Homo sapiens: one gene and its partners. The protein of the gene in region 4 purifies or fractionates together with the protein of the main gene of each other region. This does not show direct contact. Each region holds a gene or a part of one and is shown on either strand. Other genes may lie near its edges.

What was found.
Region 1: the proteins of LDLRAD4 (region 4) and WWP1 purify together in Homo sapiens (affinity purification with mass spectrometry; 4 studies listed by BioGRID and IntAct, with this or other methods). This does not show direct contact.
Region 2: the proteins of LDLRAD4 (region 4) and DHX38 purify together in Homo sapiens (affinity purification with mass spectrometry; 3 studies listed by BioGRID and IntAct, with this or other methods). This does not show direct contact.
Region 3: the proteins of LDLRAD4 (region 4) and HECW1 purify together in Homo sapiens (affinity purification with mass spectrometry; 4 studies listed by BioGRID and IntAct, with this or other methods). This does not show direct contact.
Region 5: the proteins of LDLRAD4 (region 4) and ITCH purify together in Homo sapiens (affinity purification with mass spectrometry; 4 studies listed by BioGRID and IntAct, with this or other methods). This does not show direct contact.
Region 6: the proteins of LDLRAD4 (region 4) and STXBP4 purify together in Homo sapiens (affinity purification with mass spectrometry; 3 studies listed by BioGRID and IntAct, with this or other methods). This does not show direct contact.
Region 7: the proteins of LDLRAD4 (region 4) and EPN1 purify together in Homo sapiens (affinity purification with mass spectrometry; 3 studies listed by BioGRID and IntAct, with this or other methods). This does not show direct contact.

The regions. Positions count from the first base shown.
Region 1 is NC_000008.11:86,464,547-86,466,774, reverse strand, and holds part of WWP1 (NEDD4-like E3 ubiquitin-protein ligase WWP1), read right to left. Parts: intron 1-2,228. UniProt on the Homo sapiens protein: E3 ubiquitin-protein ligase which accepts ubiquitin from an E2 ubiquitin-conjugating enzyme in the form of a thioester and then directly transfers the ubiquitin to targeted substrates.
Region 2 is NC_000016.10:72,103,847-72,107,346, reverse strand, and holds part of DHX38 (pre-mRNA-splicing factor ATP-dependent RNA helicase PRP16), read right to left. Parts: intron 3,402-3,500; coding exon 3,216-3,401; intron 2,862-3,215; coding exon 2,721-2,861; intron 2,321-2,720; coding exon 2,210-2,320; intron 2,116-2,209; coding exon 1,999-2,115; intron 1,831-1,998; coding exon 1,723-1,830; intron 1,343-1,722; coding exon 1,230-1,342; intron 8-1,229; coding exon 1-7. UniProt on the Homo sapiens protein: Probable ATP-binding RNA helicase. Involved in pre-mRNA splicing as component of the spliceosome.
Region 3 is NC_000007.14:43,437,647-43,441,146, forward strand, and holds part of HECW1 (E3 ubiquitin-protein ligase HECW1), read left to right. Parts: intron 1-356; coding exon 357-499; intron 500-3,500. UniProt on the Homo sapiens protein: E3 ubiquitin-protein ligase that mediates ubiquitination and subsequent degradation of DVL1. Also targets the mutant SOD1 protein involved in familial amyotrophic lateral sclerosis (FALS).
Region 4 is NC_000018.10:13,225,260-13,228,759, reverse strand, and holds part of LDLRAD4 (low-density lipoprotein receptor class A domain-containing protein 4 isoform alpha 1), read right to left. Parts: intron 1-3,500. UniProt on the Homo sapiens protein: Functions as a negative regulator of TGF-beta signaling and thereby probably plays a role in cell proliferation, differentiation, apoptosis, motility, extracellular matrix production and immunosuppression.
Region 5 is NC_000020.11:34,506,273-34,509,272, reverse strand, and holds part of ITCH (E3 ubiquitin-protein ligase Itchy homolog), read right to left. Parts: intron 1,579-3,000; coding exon 1,479-1,578; 3' UTR 1-1,478. UniProt on the Homo sapiens protein: Acts as an Acts as an E3 ubiquitin-protein ligase which accepts ubiquitin from an E2 ubiquitin-conjugating enzyme in the form of a thioester and then directly transfers the ubiquitin to targeted substrates.
Region 6 is NC_000017.11:55,076,765-55,080,264, reverse strand, and holds part of STXBP4 (syntaxin-binding protein 4), read right to left. Parts: intron 2,188-3,500; coding exon 2,071-2,187; intron 1,580-2,070; coding exon 1,530-1,579; intron 1-1,529. UniProt on the Homo sapiens protein: Plays a role in the translocation of transport vesicles from the cytoplasm to the plasma membrane. Inhibits the translocation of SLC2A4 from intracellular vesicles to the plasma membrane by STX4A binding and preventing the interaction between STX4A and VAMP2.
Region 7 is NC_000019.10:55,681,726-55,685,225, forward strand, and holds part of EPN1 (epsin-1), read left to right. Parts: intron 1-3,500. UniProt on the Homo sapiens protein: Binds to membranes enriched in phosphatidylinositol 4,5-bisphosphate (PtdIns(4,5)P2). Modifies membrane curvature and facilitates the formation of clathrin-coated invaginations. Regulates receptor-mediated endocytosis.

The DNA of each region.
Region 1 (2,228 bases), on a different chromosome or scaffold from region 4:
AAATCAGATGTTTTCAATAAAATGAAAAAAATCTAATAGAATACTTTTCAAAGCACATAGAAATGCTGAATGGATATATGTATACTATATATGTTAAAATTTTGCCAGAAGTATTTAGAGTAATCTAAATTTAAGACTTACATATAAAAACTATTTTAACATCTCCAAGAGGAAAATGGAATTACAAATAATAAGTGTAGCAATATGGATAAAGACAAATTTAAAAAAAAAAAAAAATCCATTTTCTTTTTACTATTCCTGTTACATGTGTCATGAGTCCTCTTAACTTCTCTTAGGATAAGAGTCCATTTCTTTCATCCACTCAGTCACTCATTCATCAGTCATTTACCGAGAATTTTTTATATAACTGATAAGCTAGTGATACAGTGAAGAAAACTAAAATCCCTGTCTTCATGGAATTTACATTCTGGGGTAGAGACAGTCAATTAACAAATATATATGTTTCTTTGTCTTTTCAAATAATCTAACCACATATATAAACTCTTCTAAAATGACACTTTTTCAATCTTGCCATACTCAATTCCATTCTGGTATTAACTGATAAAAATTTTAAAATACTAAAAAATGCTTAAAATAACTATTATTTTTCAGTTTACAAAGGTGGAATAACATTTCGTTTTGTGAGGTACAGCACTGAGTAGCTAGATTAGGATTCGGGTGTTCAGGGTTTTGGTCCCTACAGTAGCAGTGACTAGTGAGATAGCCCTGAGTAAGTCAGAACCCTTCTGTACCTTCATTTTCCCATGTGGAAGGTTTCTAGAGATTATCCAGGTGCCTTCTTACCACTGTCACCACTTTCCATGTGCCCTTGACCCTCCCATGTCAGAGTCAGGAAAGAGCCTTTGAAACAAGGCATCTAAATAAAACAGTGCTGTTCTAAGACTGTATTCTTTGTATTTTAAATGAAGTTAAAGATATTAATAGCAGCAACTAAGCAGACCATATACTGCCCTCCCCTTTATACTTCAAGGTAGAGTATGATAACAAGGTCAGAAAAAAAAATTATTTTTTAATACTTCCTATACAAGACAACCAGTCACTTTCTGTTCTCTTACATCTTTCACATATAGCCTTTGCCAAATTCTGTCATTCTATCTACCAAATATTCCATTTTTTCTCCTGATTATTTATTTGGAGACAGGGTCTGGCTGTGTCGCCTAGGCTACTGTCTCGGCTCACTGCGACCTCGACCTCCCAGGCTGAAGCAATCCTCCCTCCTCCCACCTCAGTCCCTGGAGTGGCTGGGAGTACAGGCGCATGCCACCATGGCCAGCTAACTTTTGTATTTTTTTTTGTAGAGACGAAGTTTTGTCATGTTGCCCAGGCTCCTCCTCATCATTTCTACTGCCACTACATCCCTTTGTATATGCTTCCCCATCATCTCTTACCTGGACCATCAGAGAATTCTTTGGGTCTATTTGTTTTGTTTCTTTTTTACTTTTTGCTAAAAAGACATACCAGTTTATGCCACTCTTCAAAAACTTTTGCTGCTTTCGAGTTGCTATGGGTGGGGAGGGGGCTGTGGTGGGGAAAGGAAGCTTATGCTCTTTGCTGTCAACTTGTTTCATGCTCTAATCCAAGTGAGCAATCCAATTTTGCCTAGCAATCTTAGCCGTGTTCCTCTAATGAATACTTGCCTATTCTCTAACAATTCTCCCAATTCCTTCTTTCTCTCAAAAGTTTTTCCTTTCTTCACTCTTAGCCAGTGACTTCTCCTTATACTTTGAGAAAACAGAAATCAGTGGGTGGTAATTACTTTCCTTTCACAAAATTTGAAATCTATTTTAATTCTCCCTTTGACTCAAAAATCTCTCTCTCAATACACACACACACGCGCGCGCATGTGTGTATACATATGGATCTATCACTTTTATTGAAGGCAGAGGTCTTCAAATTTTGGTCACAGGACTCCTTTTCACTCTTAAAAATACTGTCAACCTTGGCTGGGAGCAGTGGCTCATGCCTATAATCCCAGCACTTTCAGAGGCCAAGGCAGGACAGCTTGAGCCCAGAGTTTAAGACCCACCTGGGACAACACAGCAAAACTTTGTCCCTACAAAAAATTAAAAAATTAGCCAGGCATAGTGGCGTGCACTGGTGGTCCCAGCTACTGAGGAGGCTATGGCAGGAGGATTGCTTGAACCCAGGAGGTTGAGGCTGCAGTGAGTTGTGTCTGTGCCACTGCACTCTAACATAGGTAACACAGC
Region 2 (3,500 bases), on a different chromosome or scaffold from region 4:
GTAGAGCCTGCCGGGGAGAAGACCCCATCTTCTCACCACAAGGAAACCCCACAGCAGCCAGTACAGATGAAATCCCACAGGGAGGGAGGAAATTCTCATTTCTTCTCCCCACCCACTACTTCAGTGAATCACTGACTTCCACCTATTCAAAACTCCAATCTGCCAATTTAGCCCTTCTTCTGGAGCCTCTTACATGTTTCATTTCTTTTTTTTTTAGACAGAGTCTCACTCTGTTGCCCAACCTCTGCCTCCCGGATTTAAGCGATTCTCCTGCCTCAGCCTCCCGAGTAGCTGGGACTACAGGCATCCGCCACCACGCCCAGCTGATTTTTGTATTTTTAGTAGAGATGGGGTTTCACCATATTGGCCATGGTGGTCTCAAACTCCTGACCTTGTGATCGGCCCGCCTCGGCCTCCCAAAGTGCCAGGATTACAGGCATGAGCCACCACACCCAGCCATCTGTTTCATTTCTAGAACCAATGGGCCTGGGACTAGAATCATGGCTGGGTTTTATTTTCTTGATATTTTTCTATATTCACTAACGCTCTATAGTGAATACATTAATTTTTTTAATTGGAACAAAAAAGGGGAAGAGAGCCAGGCAGAGTGGCTCACACCTATAATGCCAACAGTTTGGGAGGCCAAGACAGAAGAATCGCTTGAAGCCAGGAGTTCACAATACCAGCCTGGGCAACATAGCAAGACCCCATCTCTACAAAATATGAACAAATTAGCCAGGTGTGGTGGTGCCTGCCTGCAATCTCAGCCCCTTGGGAGTCTGAGGTGGGAGGTTCACTTGAGTGCAGGAGATCAAGGCTGCAGTGAGCTGTGATTGCACCACCACACTCCAGCCTGGGGTGACAGAGCAAGACCCTGTCTCTAATTGGAAAAAAGAAAGAAAGAAAATGGGGAAAGAGAACAATAGAAATAAAAAGAACCAATGGCATCATCTGTCCAGACCTACCCTCTGAAGGGAGGCAGGCTGTAATTACCTGCATGTGTACCTACATCCACGTAGGTTGGCCTCAGACCTCTGAAATCCCTGGAAAGCCACTCCTTCCTTCCACTCAGTAGCATAGGATGAAAGGACTAACAAGTGGCAGCCCTGCCAGCAGCTTCCAGCCTTGGGGACCAGCTCTAGAGCCAGCATCCTGCCCGCCCCCGCCCGGGCTCCACGCTCAGCAACCCCAGCGCTGCCCCAGAAAGCAGGCTAGCACAGGGCTCCTACCTGAAACACTGACCTGGGCCCGTCCTGCCGGCTCGCCCTGACCGCTGGTTGGCATTGGCCTGGCTAATGGGATAGATCTGCAGAGCATCCATGCCAATCCTGGGGTTGAAGACCTAGGAGGGGACGGCAAAGAGCTGACGAAGGACAGAGTGAGGGGAAAGTGGAAGTAGGCCTGAGACAAAGGCAAGCCCTGGTTGCTACACATGGCAGAGGAAGAGCCAGGAGGCTCTAGAAATGTTCTCATGAACACCTGAAGAAGTCTTCCCCACAAACACCAGCTCTCTGAGCTCTACTGTTAAATTATCTACCTCATCGAGTATTACAAGGGTTAAACAAACCAAGCACAGTGAGTCAATGTGAGCCTCCCACCACCACCACCACTTCCACGCGCTCCCCACATCCCAGGGCCAGGAGCGAGGCCCTGGCTTCCCACCCCGCAGCTAAGTTAGCTTCTGGTGAACACCCAGGCCTTGCCTCCCATGTCTTCTCTTACCTTTAATTTGCAATAACCAGAATCGATAACAAACATGATGCCGTCAACAGTGAGAGACGTCTCGGCAATATTGGTGGCAACGATGCACTTCCGAACGCCATCTGGAGCCTAGAGCAGGACATACAGGAAGGGAAAAATGAGTCCCTCGAGACAGGAAAGGCTCCGCGAGGGGGAAAAGCCTACCTCCTAGCCCACCCCCTGCCAGGACAGTCACATCCCCTCTCGCTTCCTTTAGAGAACTCCAAGAGCCACTCCTGGACATTCCTGCTGACACACCTTCTGGAAGATTTTGGCCTGGAGGTCAGAAGGCAGCTGAGAGTAGATGGGCAGCACAGCCAGGGCAGGCGCGTTCTCCAGTTCCTCCAGATGCTCCACAATCTGGTCTGAGGTCACCTGAGAGCCCAGGGAGGAGCTGTGAGACACTGGAACCCTAACCTCTCATATGCAAGACACACCCGCTCATCACAGTCGTGACCAAGGCACGCACCTCAATGTCCTCTTGGCCAGGCATGAAGATAAGGATGTCTCCAGGGGCCCCCGACAGGTGCACCTGCAAGGACTGCTTCACTGCAGCCTCCACGTAATCCTCCTGTGGGGTCTGCAACAGCAGTGGGGACACAGTCAGAGGGAGGTACTAGAAGCGCAGGCCGGGCATCTCCTGGGAGCCCAGTGGCCCAGGCACTGCTCTGGAATGGAGCCATGGACTTTGAGGGCCACCACACCTCCACATGGGCCTGACTGCGAGGCCTCTACAAGAGGGCACAGTGCCTCCCTGGGCCCTGTACTTCAGCCTCAAAGAAATAATGAAACAAAACCTCACCCAGAGCAGAGTCCTTTGTCCCCGAGTCCCAGAGCTGCAGGCTGCCCCATTTGCCCCATGGTCCCCAGGAAATCTTCTCCAACCCAGTCCCCTACCCACCCTCCACCCTCCAGCCGGCTTCGCATCAGAGAAGTGCGTGGCATGGAAGGGTCAGTTCGTAACATGGTGGCCTCAATACCTTGCTGAAGAGGATGTCAACAGGGAAGGTACGGCCAGGGATGTGGAAGATGGGGACATTCCCAAAAAAGGCAGCAAACTTCTCCGCATCCATCGTGGCTGATGTGACGATGAGCTTCAGGTCTGAGCGCCGAGCCACTACCTGAGAGAAGAGGCGGCTCGGAGGCCCCCATGGTGGGGACCCTTGGCTCCTGTCCCCCAGTCCCATCAGCACCACCCCCGAGGAAACACAAGCCAAAGCTGACAAATGGGCCTATTCAATTCTTACCAATCATGAAGACTGAAGCAATGGAGCCACTGCCCAGAAAACCCCAAGCCACCCTCAGCAGAGCAAGAACAGCATGAACTACAACCCGAGTCTGAACTGCAACCAGAGGCCTCAGGAACCTCTGGCCTACCAGAGACCCCCTCAGCCCACCTGGAGCAACCCACTAGCTACTGGTGGTGCACTGGTCAACACCCCATGCGCAGAGAGACCAAACCACACAGCCCTCACCTCCCGGAGCAGCCCAAAGAGCACGTCAGTGTTGAGGGAGCGCTCGTGGGCCTCGTCCATGATGATGGCACTGTAGTGATCCAGGTCGGCTTCCCGGAGGGACTCTCGGAGCAGGATCCCGTCAGTCATGTATTTGATCAAGGTGTTCTCTGAAGTGCAGTCTTCAAAGCGGATGGCATAGCCCACCTGGAGGTCAGAGAGATGGCTCAGATGCCCTGGCCACCGGCTCACCACCAGCACACCCCGTACTGGGGTCCGAGTCTTAGCAGATCACACCCTTTAGCA
Region 3 (3,500 bases), on a different chromosome or scaffold from region 4:
TTTATTTAAAGTACATTTTCTTAATTACAGGTGAGTTTGTGCTTGTTCTTTCTTAAAGTATGATAATACCTTCAATCAAGTATGATGAGGCTTTGGTGGCATTCTTTCTCTTTAAAGCATGCTGATTTTACTGCTTGAATCTCAAAGAATAAGCCTATTTTTAAGCCCTGCAGAAGCATCTTGTCGCTGCCCCTCATTTACTGAATAAACAGGTTCACAACATTTCTGAGACCCTTTATATATAGGTATATTATAGCTAGGATGTTTTACAGTGACAGCATCAAGGCAGATGGACTGGGAATTGACCAGCCCTCCAACCTCTCAGTTAATTGATGTGACATATTCTTTCATTGCAGCAATTCAGTTTTGTGTCCTTGCCCACTGACGTGCTGGAAATTGAGGTGAAGGACAAGTTTGCCAAGAGCCGCCCCATCATCAAGCGCTTCTTGGGAAAGCTGTCGATGCCCGTTCAAAGACTCCTGGAGAGACACGCCATAGGGTAAACCTGTGACTGAGATCTTACTATCACTAGGTTCCCACCAACAGGTCGTGCCCAAAGGTGGCCTGTAGGCTGCAATAGTATAGTCTCACAGAGAGTCAAAATGGTATCATTATATTTCCTTTGTTTTTCCTACTAATTATGTTGCCTGAGCCAACATAAGTGTTTGTTATATTAAACAAACCCATCCCTTTTCACTTGATGTGTAACACTGGTTACTTACCCAAGAGAGTAAAAAATCCTATTAAAAATATTAAACAGTATTAAAAGAAGCCCTCAATGGGGCATTTTTCTGTACAGGTAGAAACTAAAGTTTGTTTTACTATGAAGAATATTATTTCATTCATATGCCAGTCTGGTATGTAAGATTTAATCATATGTGACATTTCCATAACAAGATGGAATACTGGGTAACTACTGTAGAGTTTCTTACTTAGAAGACACTAGTATCTGCAGATGCTAGATAACATGGATAAGAATTTGAAAGCATGATTCTCATGGAATGACAGCAATTAAGATGCTCACAGAATTCAATTGTATATGAGAATGGGTTTCTGTTTTGTCTCTTTTACATTCATGTCCACTCATGGTTCTCATTAAAGTGGACTATGACCAGATAACAGCCCTATGTATAATATGTATTTCTTTAGGTAACAGGGACTACATTTGAAAACACTAAATAAAGCTTTCTATTGATAAACATATACTTATATACAATGTAACCCTTACAAAGATAGCAAAAGAATGAGAAAAAAATATGCAGAATTTCCAAGTGTCTTAATTTAAAGTTCTTTGGATTATCAGAAGGACTTTGGAATCACGGATAATTATCATAAAGACATTTATTATTAATTGGAACCTTATGGTGTGTAGGCAGCAGGGTGCACAGAGACCTGCCACTAACTCTCCAGCCAAAGGGAGCTGAGTTTATGGAGCTGCAGTCACGTGTCACATGCAGTGTTTGCACTTGCCATTCATGGTTGTGAGGATTAAACAGACAAAAAGTGTACATAAAGAACCTAGCACGGCCACTGGCACGTAGTAGGAACACAAAAGAAAATGGTATTCCTTGTGATCTTTTTTATTTCATTTAGTCCTCATAATGCTTCTGTGACAGCATTATCACCATTCCTGCACGAGGAAACAAGGCTTCAAAAGGATCAATAATTATGTAAACCCAAGGCTTGTGGGTGGCAGAGATCCGGCCGGAATTCAGACTCACACCTGTGTCTCTCCAAAGTCCGAGGGCCATCCCCACACAACAGGCTTCTCTCAGGGTTCCTAGGACTGATTCTGTAGTTTATTGTGGGCCATGCTTTTCATTTCTCTCCTTCTCTGCCCTACTGGCTGCTCTCACAGCTGTTAGCACCTCTGCCAGGGGGTGGGCTGGAGAACAAAAACAGGGGCTGTGTGGGATTCTTTCTACCCCAGCACCCAGTGCACTGCCGCCCAGCATGCATTAGATAGATACCAGTTCGTACGTAAGGAACAGAACTTCTCTCTCCAGCTCGCTGCAGCCGCAGAGCCCCTCTGCCCTCCCATGCTGAGTTCTCTCCTAAGTCCAAGCTGCCGGCTCCTATCTTCTTAGCACTGTCCCGCCCTCCAAGCCTCCCACTGTGGAAAGGCACATCCCCAGCTGAAAGCAAGTACCTGAGGTGGAAAAGGGTGTCCCCGACCAAAAGAAGGTTAGCTATGATTTTCCCAGTGTTCTTGCCACCCAGGGAAATGGAGAGCACAGATCGAGTGTGATTGAGCTTACACCTCTCCAAGAGGCAACAACAGCAAGCCATGGAGGCGTTTTTCCTCCCACCCTCTTTGATGGGATGATAGACTGCCCCCTGGTGGCGGCGCAGAGCAGCTCCTCCTCCAAAGCCTTCTGCTTCCACAGCCCCTGGGGGCCACTTCTGCAGTGCTGCCTCCTCCGGAGGTGTCCCACCGTGGTTAGGAGCAGAGTGTTGGGGTGATGGCCATGGAAGCAGTGGCCATGCAGCCTGAGCCATGGCAGAACCCCAGAGTGCACCCACAACAAAAGTGAATCCACTTTGCACCGCAGCTTCCCTCTGCCCTCAGCACATGCTCTCCCCATAAAGCCCCCTGCATCCGTGGTTTCTGAAACGTTTGGCTCCACCTGTACTGGCTGCCTCCCTGCCCTGAGATATTTGCACCTTTCCCCCCTGGGCACACATGCACTCTCATTTCCAATCCTCCTTCGATTCCTTGGCCTGTAAAATCCCAGGCTTCTGTTGGCTGTCTGCCTGTAACTCTAACCATCTCACCTTCGCATTGAAGTGTCACTGGCTGTCTTGAACCATTATTTAGTGGTCCTACCTTATGCCCCCAGCTGGACATAAGCTATTTAAAGGCAGGGGCGATGTATGACATGCTTTGTATCAACTGCAGCACCTTTCACATGGCAGGGGCTCAAAAAATATTTGTTAAGTGGGTGAAAAGCAAAAAAAAGAAAAGCCCTGAAAGTAAATGCAAAGCATAATAAATGTAATTTTTGTGCCACTGTCTGATTGTCTTTAGGCCTCCCCTGATTTCAATTAAGTTTTGGGTTCGGGATGTCTTTGTTATGGTCATAATAGACCTACTTCATAATATTGACCAAAGGCTCTTTCTAAACAGACAAAATACTGAAGCTCATCCTATTTTTTTCTGCACATAATGCTTTACTTAATGGACTTCTGAGGAACTCCAAACACTAAATCATGGCTTATCAAAGAACAATTTTTAAGTCGGGGCTTGTTGGGATATAGGTTGTCTCATAATGCCAGTGTTTTCTAGAAAGAAACATTAAAACACTATCAGCCAGTGATTTATCTTTTTATTTTCATGTCACAAACTAATAAATGGAATAAATACAGAGTCATCTGAGTAACAACTGGTTTGGGGCTATGTGTTTGTTATTACTGGGTACCCTGGGTTTGTTAACTCCTGAATATCCAAAGGTGGTCACTCTTCCTATTTAGGCCCAGGTAAGGGGCAATTTACTCTGCTG
Region 4 (3,500 bases):
TGTCATATTCAAACCCAATAGAAGGAAAGCTAAGTGTTTTAGGGGCACAATTTTTTAACATTTTTTTTGTAGAGATAGGGTCTTACTATGCTGCCCAGGCTGGTCTCAAACTCCAGCCTTGTGCCTGGCCTAGGGGTCAAGATTTATCTTCATAGCCAAAGTAGCAGAAAAACAAATGTTCAACCGAGCCAACCAACTGCCGACATTTCCTCAAGTCCTGCACACATTGTATCCAGAAGGCCTCCCGTCCCCACTAGGAAAGCAGGGACTGTGTTGCAGGAGCAAGCCAAACAGCAAGGTCAAATCAGACAGAAATCGGTCAGCTCTGCACACCTCAGCCAGTAACAAACACAAGGTGGATTTGTCAGGCACCCAAAGCCCTCTGGGTCAATGGCAAGCACCCTCACAGTGACATCAGAGCCACCACCTCACTGAGGAAAATGGAGAACCGCCAAGGACTGTGGCAGAGGCGTACTCCCCAAAAGACACTGAGGGACCCCACCGGCCAGACCACTGGAGGACTGCCACCCCATTAGCAGCCTTCAGCACACTCCATCTCCACTCCGCAGGCCTCATACCATCTCCAGCCTTTTGGAATCCATCTCCAAGGCCTCAGCACTGCCACAGGTGAGGGCAGGTGTGCACCTGGGACAGAGTGTGGTGCTGATGGCAGGCCAAGCAGAGCTGAGAAGGACCCAGTCTGCAGTCTCAACCCAGGGAGATGGGGCACAGCATCACCAGCTGAGCTTCTGCCGTCTGCACCTGCAGTACCTGGGCTCACGCACCTAGGCACCTCCTTGAAAGCTTTGGTACAAAACACAGAACTGTGCTGATACGTTCAGGCTCTGTGTCCCCACTCAAATCTCACCTTGAATTGTAATCCAAATTGTAATCCCCATGTGTTGGGGGAGGGACCTCATGGGAAGGGAATAGATCATGAGAGTGGTTCCCCCGTGCTGTTCTCATGATAGTGAGTTCTCACGAGATCTGATGGTTTTATAAAGGGCTTTTCCTTCCTTCACTCTGCACTTCACTCTCTTGCTGCCAAGTGAAGTAGGACATGTTTGCTTCCACTTCCGCCATGACTGTAAGTGTCCCAAGGCCTCCTCAGCCACGTGGAACTGTGAGTCAATTAAACCTCTTTCCTTTATAAATTACCCAGTCTCGGGTATTTCTTCATAGCAGCATGAGAACGGACTAATACATGGGCCCACCAGGTCCTGTGGGACCCACTCACTGTCCACCAGGCAATGCCAGGTGGAAGTGCACCCCCAGCATACACCAAAGAGCAGGTGAGCACCTTGCACAGTACATGAGGGTCTCCCCACCTGATGTGCTCAGGTGCCTGTGAACAAAACCACACCGATCATGACCAGCCCTAGAGAAAGTGGTGCCATCTTGCTCCCTCCAGCACGGTAAGCACCCTCCATTCCAGCTGCTTCCAACCCCTCAATGAAAGACTGTCTTTAATTAGTTCATCACCACCTAGTAAAGTGATTTTTTCATCTCTCTCAAGCTTTAGGAGCAACAGCTTAAGAGGTCAGGCACTGTTCATAGTTGTTGCAACTCTGGAAGGGCTGATGCCTTGGAGGAAAGCAGAAAACTTTAGCACATTTGCAGAGGATGTGGAGGTCCTCCACAGACGACACAAGAATGGAGTATGGAGGATCATGAATTTTCTGTCTGCCCATCATGAATTTTCTGTCTGCATCCTTAGGGGCAAGACTAGCAAAGAGTGTGAGGTCCAATAGGGATCATTTGAAATGAAGAGAAGCGACTGAACAAGGTATGGTGGGGCTATCCAGACAGCCAGGTGCTGACTCCACCCCCTCCTGGCCCTCATTCTCCATTGCAAGTTCAAGGCTACCCCTAAAGAGGGAGGATGAGGAGGCTGGGGGAAGACCAAGAGCAGTCTATGCCCATCGTATCCTATAATTTGTTTAAAAGACATGTTATTAGAATGTTTATTGCCCTGAACCTACCTGAGTAGAATTTAATTCTATTTTATTTTATTTTATTTTATTTTATTTTATTTTATTTTATTTTATTCAAATTTTAAAAAGCACAAAGGTCTTACCCCACCTACTGAGATCATCCACTGACATTATGATGTTTGGCCTTAACAAAATTCTAGCAAACAGCAAAACTCTTTTCATCGATAAGCCAGATGACACAAAGTCAGATTTTCAAAATAAAAAGATAGGAAAGAAAATTTAAACGTCATGTGCCCATATCATTTACTGCCAAATTTGCAAAGGTTTTTTAAATAATATTCGGCATTGACAAGGGTGCAGTCACCCTCTTCTCTGTGGGAATCTAAGTTGCCTCTCCCATTCTGAAAGCCCCATCTGGCAATATTTTTGGAGGACCCTTAAAAGTCTTATAGCCCCCAATTTCCCTTTTAAGAATCTACCCAAACAATGTTTTAAAAAATGTTCAGGCCAAGCACAGGGGCTCACGCCTGTAATCCTAGCACCCTGGGAGGCCAAGGCGGGAAGATTGCTTCAGCCCGGGAATTTGAGACCAGCCTGGGCAACATGGCGAAACCCGGTCTCTACAAAAAAAAAAAAAAAAAAAAAGCAAGGCATGGCAGCATCTGTAGTCCCAGATACTTAGGAGGCTGAGGGCAGAGGATGCCACAAGCCTGAGAAATGGCGGTTGCAATGAGCCGAGATCACACCACTGCACTCCAGCCTGGACAACAGAGCAAGACCCCATCTCCATTTTTTTAAATTATCAAGTTATGTAATAAATTTCTAAAAAAAAAGTTTAAAGACGTTCAATGCAATCATATTTATAACAGAGAAAACCGGTAACAGCCTCAATGTCCTAAAACTGGTTTTAAAAAAATAACAATATAACCATAGAATAGAATATTATACAATCTAGAAGTAGGATTTTTGGAGAATATTTAAATCACATGAAAAATATTCATGAAAGAATGCTAAGCTTCCTAAAAAGTACATAAATGACTTTATAATTAATTAATAAACCTGGAATCTACTAACCTACTAATCATCTCTAGCAGTGAGATCATAGATAATTTCAGTGATTTTTATTTTCTTCCTTCTTTCCCTATTTCCTAATTCTCTTCAGTACACATGTATCAGGAAAAGAAAACGTTATTTGTCCCACAGATGCTGCTAGGAGCAGCTACCCCAAGACAGGCCTTGCACCTTGGGTCATGACAATGCGTGGCTACTGAGAGCTGTTGACAGAGTGGACAGGGCCCAGACCAGGACAGTCTCTCTAGAGGTCTTCACCTCCTCAACCGTAACTTAATCAGCCCCATGCCGGGCTAGCCCCATGCCACAAAGGCTCAGAAATGCCCTGCAACATGTGGGACACCTGGTAGTATCTACATAGGGGTCAGCATCCATCCCAGCTGCTGGGGGTGGCTCAAGAGCTGTGAGGGACACCCTTTCCTGCCTGATACCGTGGACCAGTTTGCAAAGAGCTGACTGTCCTGCTAGGCCCATGATATGTGCATCTCTTGGGTA
Region 5 (3,000 bases), on a different chromosome or scaffold from region 4:
TTCATCCACTGCCAATGAAGTCAAATTTATAACAGCCACCTTGACAGTCGAAGCTAGGCCAAGTTAAAATAATTAATTCCAGAGAACTTCAAAGTGCATTAATCAGTTAATAATGGAGCAATCTAAACTTAAATAGTCGTGAGAAAAAAAGGAAACCCTGTTAAAAATTTTAGGGGTGAAAATATTGCAGATGAGGGTTATCAATCCAGTTCATGACAATGTAAAGAATGGAAATGACTACTCCAACATATGTCAGAGAAATGATAACTTTGAAGACTTTTAATTCACAGAGAATATATTCCTGTGGTTACTGGATGTTATCTTCCTTTCTTTTTAGCCAGTACCACAGCTCTCCCTCTCAAATGAAAATCTGATGTCAAAAGCTGTTTCACTGACCTCTATTTGGACTAGAAAGCACTCTAGTCTTTCTAGTCTTAAACTCCTTAACAATAATTAAATATAACTGAAGTTGTTGGATTATGATAAAACTATAAAGCATCAATTATATAGCGGAACATATAAAAATCACCAGAGACATCTTTAGATGAATTCAATTAAATTAATTCTAATTCTAGGCTAAGTTTTTTTTCCTTTTATTTATTTATCCCCCACCACGCTGCCCAAAAAAAAGACAGGGTCTCCCTATGTTGCCCAGGCTGGTCTTTAACTCCTGGGCTAAAGGGATCCTCCTGCCTCGGCCTCCCAGAGTGCTAGGATTACAGGTATGAGCCACCATGCCCGGCCCTAGGTTAACTTCTTAAAACAATGAAGGAATCACAGTGTTAACATTGTTTGTAAAGTGTAGTATTTGTCAGGCAACTGAAACAATCAGACTTCCAAATGAAGTCATTTGCAGGCTGTGACCAACTTTTCCCTGAATTCAAATTGACAAAACTACTTTGTAGAGATGCAAGAGTCTTGCCTCACTTCCAGGAATGATGTATGGATTCATGCGCCAGAAAGGAAAAACAATAGTCAAGTCAGACTAAAATGAGAGGGAGAACACAAGCCCGAATTTTGCTCACATCCCCAGAAGCAGGAGTAAGCTTGCACTTTTAACAAATGCCTCTTACCAAGAGGCTTAATAGGAAAATCTTGTATATTGCAGTTACCAAAGGACTTCCCTGCATGTCTGCAGAATGTCTAAAAGAAAAAAACACTACTCCCAAGTGAGACTTTTGACACACATAAAATATTGTTGTTAAAGGAATAAACTAGTGGAATAAGACAAGGCAAATTTCATTGTTGTGTTAAAATCTCATGTTAAGCAAGGTTCTGACTAGTCATTTGCAGACCTGATTTCTGGAAACGCTGAGTAGAAATCACTGGGAGATAAATCTAAATGAGAACATTAATTTACTTACACTCAGATAACTCTCTAAAGAGCCATTGTCCAATTTTACAAGATGTGCAACAGGCAGAGAAGGACAAACATTGCAAATAAGTTCTTGCCCATTCATGGTGCAAGTTCTCAGAAGTTACTCTTGTCCAAATCCTTCTGTTTCTTCTATGGCAAACAACAGCTTTTCCTTCAGTTGCTCATAGCTCTTGTATGGTGGCAGGTCCAGGCGATTAAAACTAAAAGCAAGAATTGTTAGTTTGAGAAAAGGAAATATGCAAAGAATCAAATGAGTAGTGTAGTATACTACTTTATACACTACTATAGAAGCACAAAAATATACTACTGTGCTTCAAAGGATACCATCAAGAAAGTGAAATAACCCAAAAATGGGAAAAAATATTTGTAAATCATATATCTGATAAAGGACTGGTATCCAAAATATATAAAAAACTTAAAACTCAACAATATTTAAAAATGAACAAAGGATAGAGATTTCTCCAAAGACATACAAATGACCAATAAGCACATTAAAAAAATGCTCAACATCCTTTACCATGCAAATAAAAACCACAATGAGATACCACTTCACACCTGTTGGGATGGCTATTATTTAAAACACCAAAACAACAACAACAACAACCAAAAAAAAAAAAAAAAAAAAAAAAAACAGAAGAAAACAAGAGTTGAAAAGGATGTGAGGATGTGGAGAAATTGGAGCCCCTCTGCACTACAGGTAGGAATATAACGCAGTGTAGTCACTATGGAAAACAGTATGGCGAGATTCCCCCAAAAAATTAAAAATAGAATTACTACATGATCAAGGAATTCCACCTCTGGGTATATACCCAAAACAACTGAAAGCAGGGCCATGGACAGATATATCTATATTCTACCACAGTATACCTATGTTTATAGCAGCATAAACAGCCAAAAGGTGGAAATAATCTAAGTGTCCATGGACAGATGAATGTATAAACAAAATGTAGTATATCCAGACTATCAAATATTATTCAGCATTAAAAAGGAGGAAATGCTGACACATGCTACAACATGGATGAAAATTAAAGATATTATTCTAAGTGAAATAAGCCAGCCAGGAAAGGACAAATAAGGTACGATTCTACACTTACGAAGTACTAAAGAATCATAGAAACAGTAGTAGAATGATGTTTGCCAGGACCTGGGGAAAGGGAGTCATGGGGAGTCATTGTTTAAAGCAGCAGTCTCCAGCCTTTTTGGCACCAGGCAATGGTTTTGTGGAAGACAATTTTTCCATGGACAGGAGTGGAGAGGGGGATGGTTTCAGGATGAAACTGTTCCACCTCAGGTTAGATTCTCGTAAGGAATGCACAATCTAGATCCCTCACATGCACAGTTCACAATAGTTATTGCTCCTATGAGAATCTAATGCCTCTGCTGATCTGACAAGTGGTGGAGCTCAGCAGGTAATGCTCATTCACCCTCCACTTACCTCCTGCTGTGCAGCCCAGTTCCTAACAGGCTGGGGACCAGGAGTTGGGGACCCCTGCTTTAATGGGTACCATTTCAATTTTACAAGATGAAAAATGTTTTAGGTCTGGCATGATGGCCTGTAATTCCAGCACTTTGGGAGGTCAAAGCAGGAGTATTGCTTGAGCTCAAGAGGTCGAGACCAGCCT
Region 6 (3,500 bases), on a different chromosome or scaffold from region 4:
GTTTTTACTAGTGTTTAATTTACTAAGACACCATGAAATGTTGCGTGATGTAGCTATTTAAAGTTGTCTTTTTTTCCATGAAGCAGTTTAAGGCAAGGGCAGGCTCTGGCTTTTAAATAGTCATTTTAACCTTAATTTTTAAAACAAAACTTTTGAATTATTAGTCAAGGTAAAACTAAGACCTTGGAAAGCTGAGGGTGGGTGACACACTTAGCCCATAAAGAAATAAATGTGATTACTGATTATTTTAAGATCCTTACTGAGAGTAATAATCATGAAATTCACAGAGTTTTCTTGTATCATAAGCAGCAAGGAGAGTAAGAAGTTATGTCAGGTTCCTTCATCATAAGAAGTAAAACATTACTTGAGTTTAGAAGTGAATTATAAATATTCTTCTAAATTAAAAAATGCTATGTGGACACCAAAAATATCTTCACTTATTAAGCTGCTGTTTTCACAGTAAAGGGTAGAGTATTTATTTACTTTTTGAGACAGGGCATCACTATGTTATCCAGGCTGGAGGGCAGTGGTATGATCACAGCTCATTGCAGCCTCAATCTCCTAGAGCTCCTGGGCTCCAGCAATCCTCCTGCCTCAACCTCCCAAGTAGCTGGGAATATAGGAATGCACCATCCCATCTGGCTATTTCTTTTTTTTTTTTTTTTTGTAGAGATAGGGTCCCACTGTGTGCCACTATGTTCCTTGTCTCAAACTCCTGGGCTCAAGTGATCCCCCTGCCTCAGCCTCCCAAAATACTGGGATTACAGGTATGCACCATCACACCCAACCTCATTGAGTCTTCCTGTTTCTGCAAGCGTATATTGCTAGAAGTAGAAGATGTATCTAGGACTAGTGGCAGCTATTATGAGAGCAGAAAAAAATTACTTTGGAAATGCATAAACAAGAATCTTTCTTTTGTAAATGTCTTTCATCATGTATCAAAATGACCATAAACTTGTGGTTTGAAATAAATAAATTTGATTAGTATGTTTCCAGCTTCTAGTAAGAAACTTTAAATCCAAAACATATTATGAATAATGAGACAATCGAGGTATATTCTCCAAATATATTTCTTTTATTTATAGCTACTGAAAGATGAAAACGAAAGAAAATGATTGCATGAATATGTTTTCCAAAATTCTGTTTGCCAGAACAACTAACCTGCTGGGTTGAGACACTTTTAGTAGTGAACCTGTGACCAGTAACTTTGATTCATACGCAAGACAATTACAGAATTTTAAGTTAATCTCATCTTTATAGAATTTTTGATAAAGACAGGATAGGTGGTTTCTACCATAATTTTAGATTACAAGGTTACAATGATTGACTAAATACCTCCAGGAATTTCTTTAACAGAGATGGGACACAAAACAATATGTCCTTGCATCTATTTCCATATGATGGCATCCAATGGGAGTTATGTAGCACCTTAGGACTATTTAAGAGATTTTTAGTATTTGAGTCACAATGACCAGATGAAGAATTTAATCACTACCCATATTCTGCAAAAAGCACTTAAATTTTCTTACCTTAAATTTGATAAAGGAGTAGAATTATCAGAAAATACTTCTTGAATAGCCTAGCAACAAACAAGATGGTGAAGGAGATATATCAGTTTGACAGTTTTTAAAAAATATCTTTTCTTCATTAATATTTATAACCTCCTCTGTCCACGGATTAAACTGATGCTTCTATTATGTAGCGGGGGTGCAAACAATTGAACTAACATGCAGTTTTACTCAGAAATATAACAGCTATGAAAACATTTCTTTATAAGGTAAGTAGTTATCAAATAATGTTTATGCATTATCAGGATTTTTGGTAAAGTATTCATTAAAATAGTATATACTTGGAATCCCATCACCTTGTCTCAATTATTTCTCTAAACAATCTATAAAATGTTAGCCAGTCTTTTCATCATGTATGCAGTTCTAAATCTGACCATAAGCCAGCATTGCTGCTTTGAGACTAGAGAATGTTTCACTAGGTACCAAATACAGTAACATTTATCTATATGCCAGTTGCCTATATATTTTTTAAAGATGAATGTAATAGAACAGAAAAACTTACCTCTACAAAATGAAGAAGCTTTTCAGTGGATGCCTCAAAAGTTTTTCGAGCCATTTCTGATTTTCGTAATTGGCAGTCGAGTACCATGATTCTCTTTTTTAAATCCTGAACACTTTCCTGCACAGAGATATCAAAAGGAGCATTTACACATTTCTTCAGTTTTACATTACTGGTCCCTATTTTCAGTTTTTATGAACTAATATTCAATATTACCAAATTATCTTTTTCTCTTACTGTACATATGTTTTGATTTTGGGGGGCATGTAACTAACTGCATATTTAAAAGTTAATTTGCACAGAGATACTGCAAGTTTTATGAGATAAGTTGTATATGAGTTTATTGATTCTTATAGTAAAATACATTTAAATTAGTTTATGGTTTTGTTTTGTTTTGTTTTTGCAATGTGTCTTACCAGATGCTGACAGAAACCTCTACTAATTTAACATAACTAAAAATGCTGGATACACACACACACACACACACACACACACACACACACACACACACGATGTAAGACAAAGCTAGCAAGGAAGTAAAGGAATTCCATGGAGACATGCAACAGCGATGCCAAGTGAGCCCACTGGGGTAAGAGAGCACTGAAGCATTATTTGTTCGGAGGGTATATGCTGATCCCTGGTGGCCTACAGTTTGGGGTTTCAACAGTCACAAATGGAAAACAGAAGAAACTCAATGGGTGAACTGGGAAGAAGTAAACTTCACAGAGGTAAACAGTGTTTTGATGTTGGCTCAGGTGACTTGAGTAAAAAAGTTTCTCCTGAATAATTCCTAACCAAAAGTCCCCATTCACACAGGTTTGGGGCCAGAATTTACATTATCTGTGTGGCCTAAAAAGCCATATGCTGAAATTTTACTTTAAATTGGTCCCAGGCTAGCAGAAGCAAACTCAAAACTCTGGAGAGATATTTCTAAAACTCAGAGCTCAAAGAATTCCCACTTATAATGCATTGATAGAACATGATCTCACAGACACAAACAAAAATCACTAAACATATGAGAAAATAAGCTCTATGAATGAAAGCTAACTGAAGGAAATAAAGTACAGTATCAGATCTATAAAGACAGCAGATATTTAAGTGAGCAGATACAAAATATAAGGCAATTATGTTTAATATGTTTTTAAAAATAAGAGGGAATTGAAAGTATAATACACAAGAAACTATTGAAATAGATCCAGATAACATAAAAAATACATCTCAAAAATAAAAATGTAACATAACTAAATTAGAAACTTTATTTATAGATTTGACATCCAGTTAGATACAATTATAAAGAGAATGGGTGAACTTGACAACAGAGGTAAAGAAACTTCTCATAATGGAACAGAAAGACAAAAATTGAAATACAAATGGGGAGAAAAGGTAAAGAGAAAACAGCCAGAAGAAGCTATAGCACACATCCAATCTGAATT
Region 7 (3,500 bases), on a different chromosome or scaffold from region 4:
TCATTTTATGCAGTTGCCCACTGCTTTTTGGTTGTTTTCAGAAAAGCAAAGGAGAAATAATGACTTATTTTGCAAACTTTTTTTTTTTTTAACTTTTTTAGAGACAAAGTGTTGCTCTGTAGCCCAGGCTGGAATCCAGCAGTACAGTCATAGCTCACTGAGCCTTGACCTCCTGGGCTCCAAGCATGGTTGAGGAATAGCTGGGACCACAGGCACACACCACCATGCCCGGCTAATTTTAAGATATTTTAAATTTTTTTGTAGAGATGGCAGTCTCACTGTGTTGCCCAGGCTGGTCTTGAACTCCTGGGCTCAAGCGATCCTCTTGCCTTGGCTTCCCAAAGGGCTGGGATTATAGTCATGAGCCACTACACCTGGCCCACTTGCTCACTTCTAAAATAAGGTTTTAAATTTTTCATTAAGAAGTTGTATACTAAGCACATCATGAATGTATAACACAGCTGTTACGCATGTGGACACCTGTGTAGCCTTCACCTAGAGGGAGGTAGAGGATGCATTCAGCCTTCCAGGTTTCCTCAGGAGACCTGTCTCCCACAGCACCGTGTCTGATTTCTGTCTGCCAAGACTGTTCTTGAGCTTTATATATGTGGAGTCACACGCGTGGTCTTTTGTGTCTGGCTTCTTTTGCTCACCATCACCATCAGGTCAGCAAGGTTGACCGTGCTGTTGCATAAAGCAGTTGTTCATTTATTTTGAGAAAGTCTCACTGTTGCCCAGGCTGGAGTGCGTTGACATGTTCTCGGCTCACTGTAGCCTCTGCCTCCCGGGCTTAAGCAATCCTCCTGCCACAGCCTCCCAAGTAGCAGGGATGACACGCATGTGCCACCACGCCTAGCTAATTTTTTGTTATTTTATTTATTTATTTTTTTAGAGCTGGGGTTTTGCCATGTCACCCACGATGGTCTTGAACTCCTGGACTCAAGCGATCCACCGACTTTAGCCTCTCAAAGCACTGGGGTTACAGGATTTTGCCACTGCACCCGATTTTATATATTTATTTAATTATTGTTTCTTATTTATTTATTTATGAGACGGAGTCTCGCTGTGTTGCCCAGGCTGGAGTGCAGTGGCACCACCTCGGCTCACTGCAACTTCTGCCTCCCAGGTTCAAGCAATTCTCCTGCCTTAGCCTCCCGAGTAGCTGGGATTACAGGTACTTGCCACCACGCCTGGCTAATTTTTGTATTTTTAGTAGAGATGGGGTTTCACCATATTGGCCAGGCTGGTCTCGAACTTCTGACCTCGTGATCCGCCCGCCTTGGCCTCCCAAAGTGCTGGGATTACAGGTGTGAGCCACCGCGCCCAGCCTGTTTTTTGTTTTTTCTTGAAATGGAGTTTCGCTCTTGTTGCCCAAGCTGGAGTGCAGTGGTGCTATCTTGGCTCACTGCAACCTCTGCCTCCCAAGATCAAGCGATTCTCCTGCCTCAGCCTCCTGAGTAGCTGGGATTACAGGCGCATGCCACAATGCCTGGCTAATTTTTTGTATTTTTAGTAGAGATGGTGTTTCACCATGTTGGCCAGGCTGGTCTCAAACTCCTGACCTTGTGATCTGCCCGCCTTGGCCTCTCAAAATGGTAAGATTATAGGTGGGAGCCACCATGCCCGGCCTTATTTATTTATTTTTAAATGGAGTCTCACTCTGTCTCCCAGGCTGGAGTACAGTGGCGTGCTCTTGGCTCACTATCACCTCTGCCTCCCTGATCCACGGGATCCTCCCACCTCAGCCTCCTGAGTAGCTGGGATTACAGGTGTGCACCGCCACACCTGGCCAGTTGTTTTGTGTTTTTAGTAGAAACAGGTTTCATCATGTTGGCCAGGCTGGTCTCGAACCCCTGACCTCGGGTGGTCCACCTGCCTCAGCCTCCCATAGTGCCGGGATTATAGGCGTGAGCCACCACACCTGGCCTCATTTCTCTTTTATTTCAGTGTATGTGGTAGTCCCGCTGTGTGAGCGTGCCATAGTTGATGTATGCATTTCACTGTGCGTGGGTATTCGCACTATTTCCTGCTTCACAATCTTTTTAGCTGCGATACCAAAGTCCAGAGAGCTCTGGAAACGAAAGTGTTTCATGATCCGTTCGGCACAAAGTCTGACCCAGACTGAAGTGAGGTCGTTCACATGGTGTCTGTTGGTCCCACAGTAGTGTGGCTGTTGGCACGACTCTGCCCAGCGCGTTCTCTTATGTGTTGTATGTGCGTTATTTTCCTGGTCTGAACTCAGGAAAATTCTGAATTCCAAAACACAAGGGCCCCAGGAGTTGTGGACCTGGGACTGCCTCTTGGCTTGGGGTGTGATCAGGCATAGCAATGGCTTACCTGCTTTCCTTTCTTTCGTGTAAATACCTTGAGGGCCGGTTAAAGACTAATCTCTGATTACACTGTAAATACTGTTAACACACCTTTGAAAGGCCTTGCCAGAGCTAGGTCCAGCTGCCTCAGAGGGTGAGGAGATATGAATGGCCCTGGCATCTTTCCTGGCAGATTTCTCCTTGGTTCAGACGGAGCTTAGCTGTGATAGCTGACTCTTCCCCTAGGAGCCCTGGGTGGGTTTCTGTGGCTCTGTGAAGGCCCTGGAATCCCCTGCAGAATCAAAGTTGTGCCTTTTTTTGAGGTCAGTGACCAAGACACCCCCTGCAGAGCCTTAAGGGGGCCATGACTCCTCAAGCCCAGGACTTGAGCCTGAGCTAGGGAGAGCCTCAGAGACCTTGGTCCCCCCGCCCCCACTATTAATTTCAACTTGTTGAAAGGGAGTTTGTTTTCGTATTATAAAATACAAACATACCAAAGGGTGCAGATTGAACGATAATGTTCCCTCCGCCCTGTCCTTTTGCTCCTGGTGGTGTGGAACCTGGGTGCCCCTCCCAAGAGAGCCCGGGCCTACACAGGCCCTTGCGTGGATCTCTTCCCTTCTTGCAGAGGTGATAAACTACTGCTCCAGGCTGTTAGTACCAGCGTGAGGTTTTACAGTCAGAAATACACATTTCAAACTAGTACTAAGACCCCCTTCATTGTGATTTAACTAATGTGGTTTTCTTGGCCATGTTACTTTAGATTTTAGTTGTAAAGAAATAGACAGGGCTCCAGGATGCCAGGCGATGCCCATGGCGGCTGTGGTGCCTGTAGCTGCCATTTCCTCTTTTATTTGGATTGAGATGGAGCTCCTACACTGTGCAGCCCCCTTCATATCGCACAGTTCAGTGGCCTTCGGCCCATTCACAGTGCTGGGCGACCACCTCTGTCCAGCTCCAGAACGTCTTCATTGCCCCAGAAGGAAAACCCATAGCCTTCAGGTGGTCCCTCTCCATCCCTCCCTCCACCCCTGGCAACCCACAATCCACTCCGTCTCTCTGGATTTGCCCATTCTGGATGATTCACGTCGATGGAACCGTAGGCTGTGTGGCGTTCTGTGCTGGCGTCTGTCGCTGAGCGCAGTACCTCCGCGGCTGGTCCCCGTCACAGCGTGGGTCTGTGTTCATTCC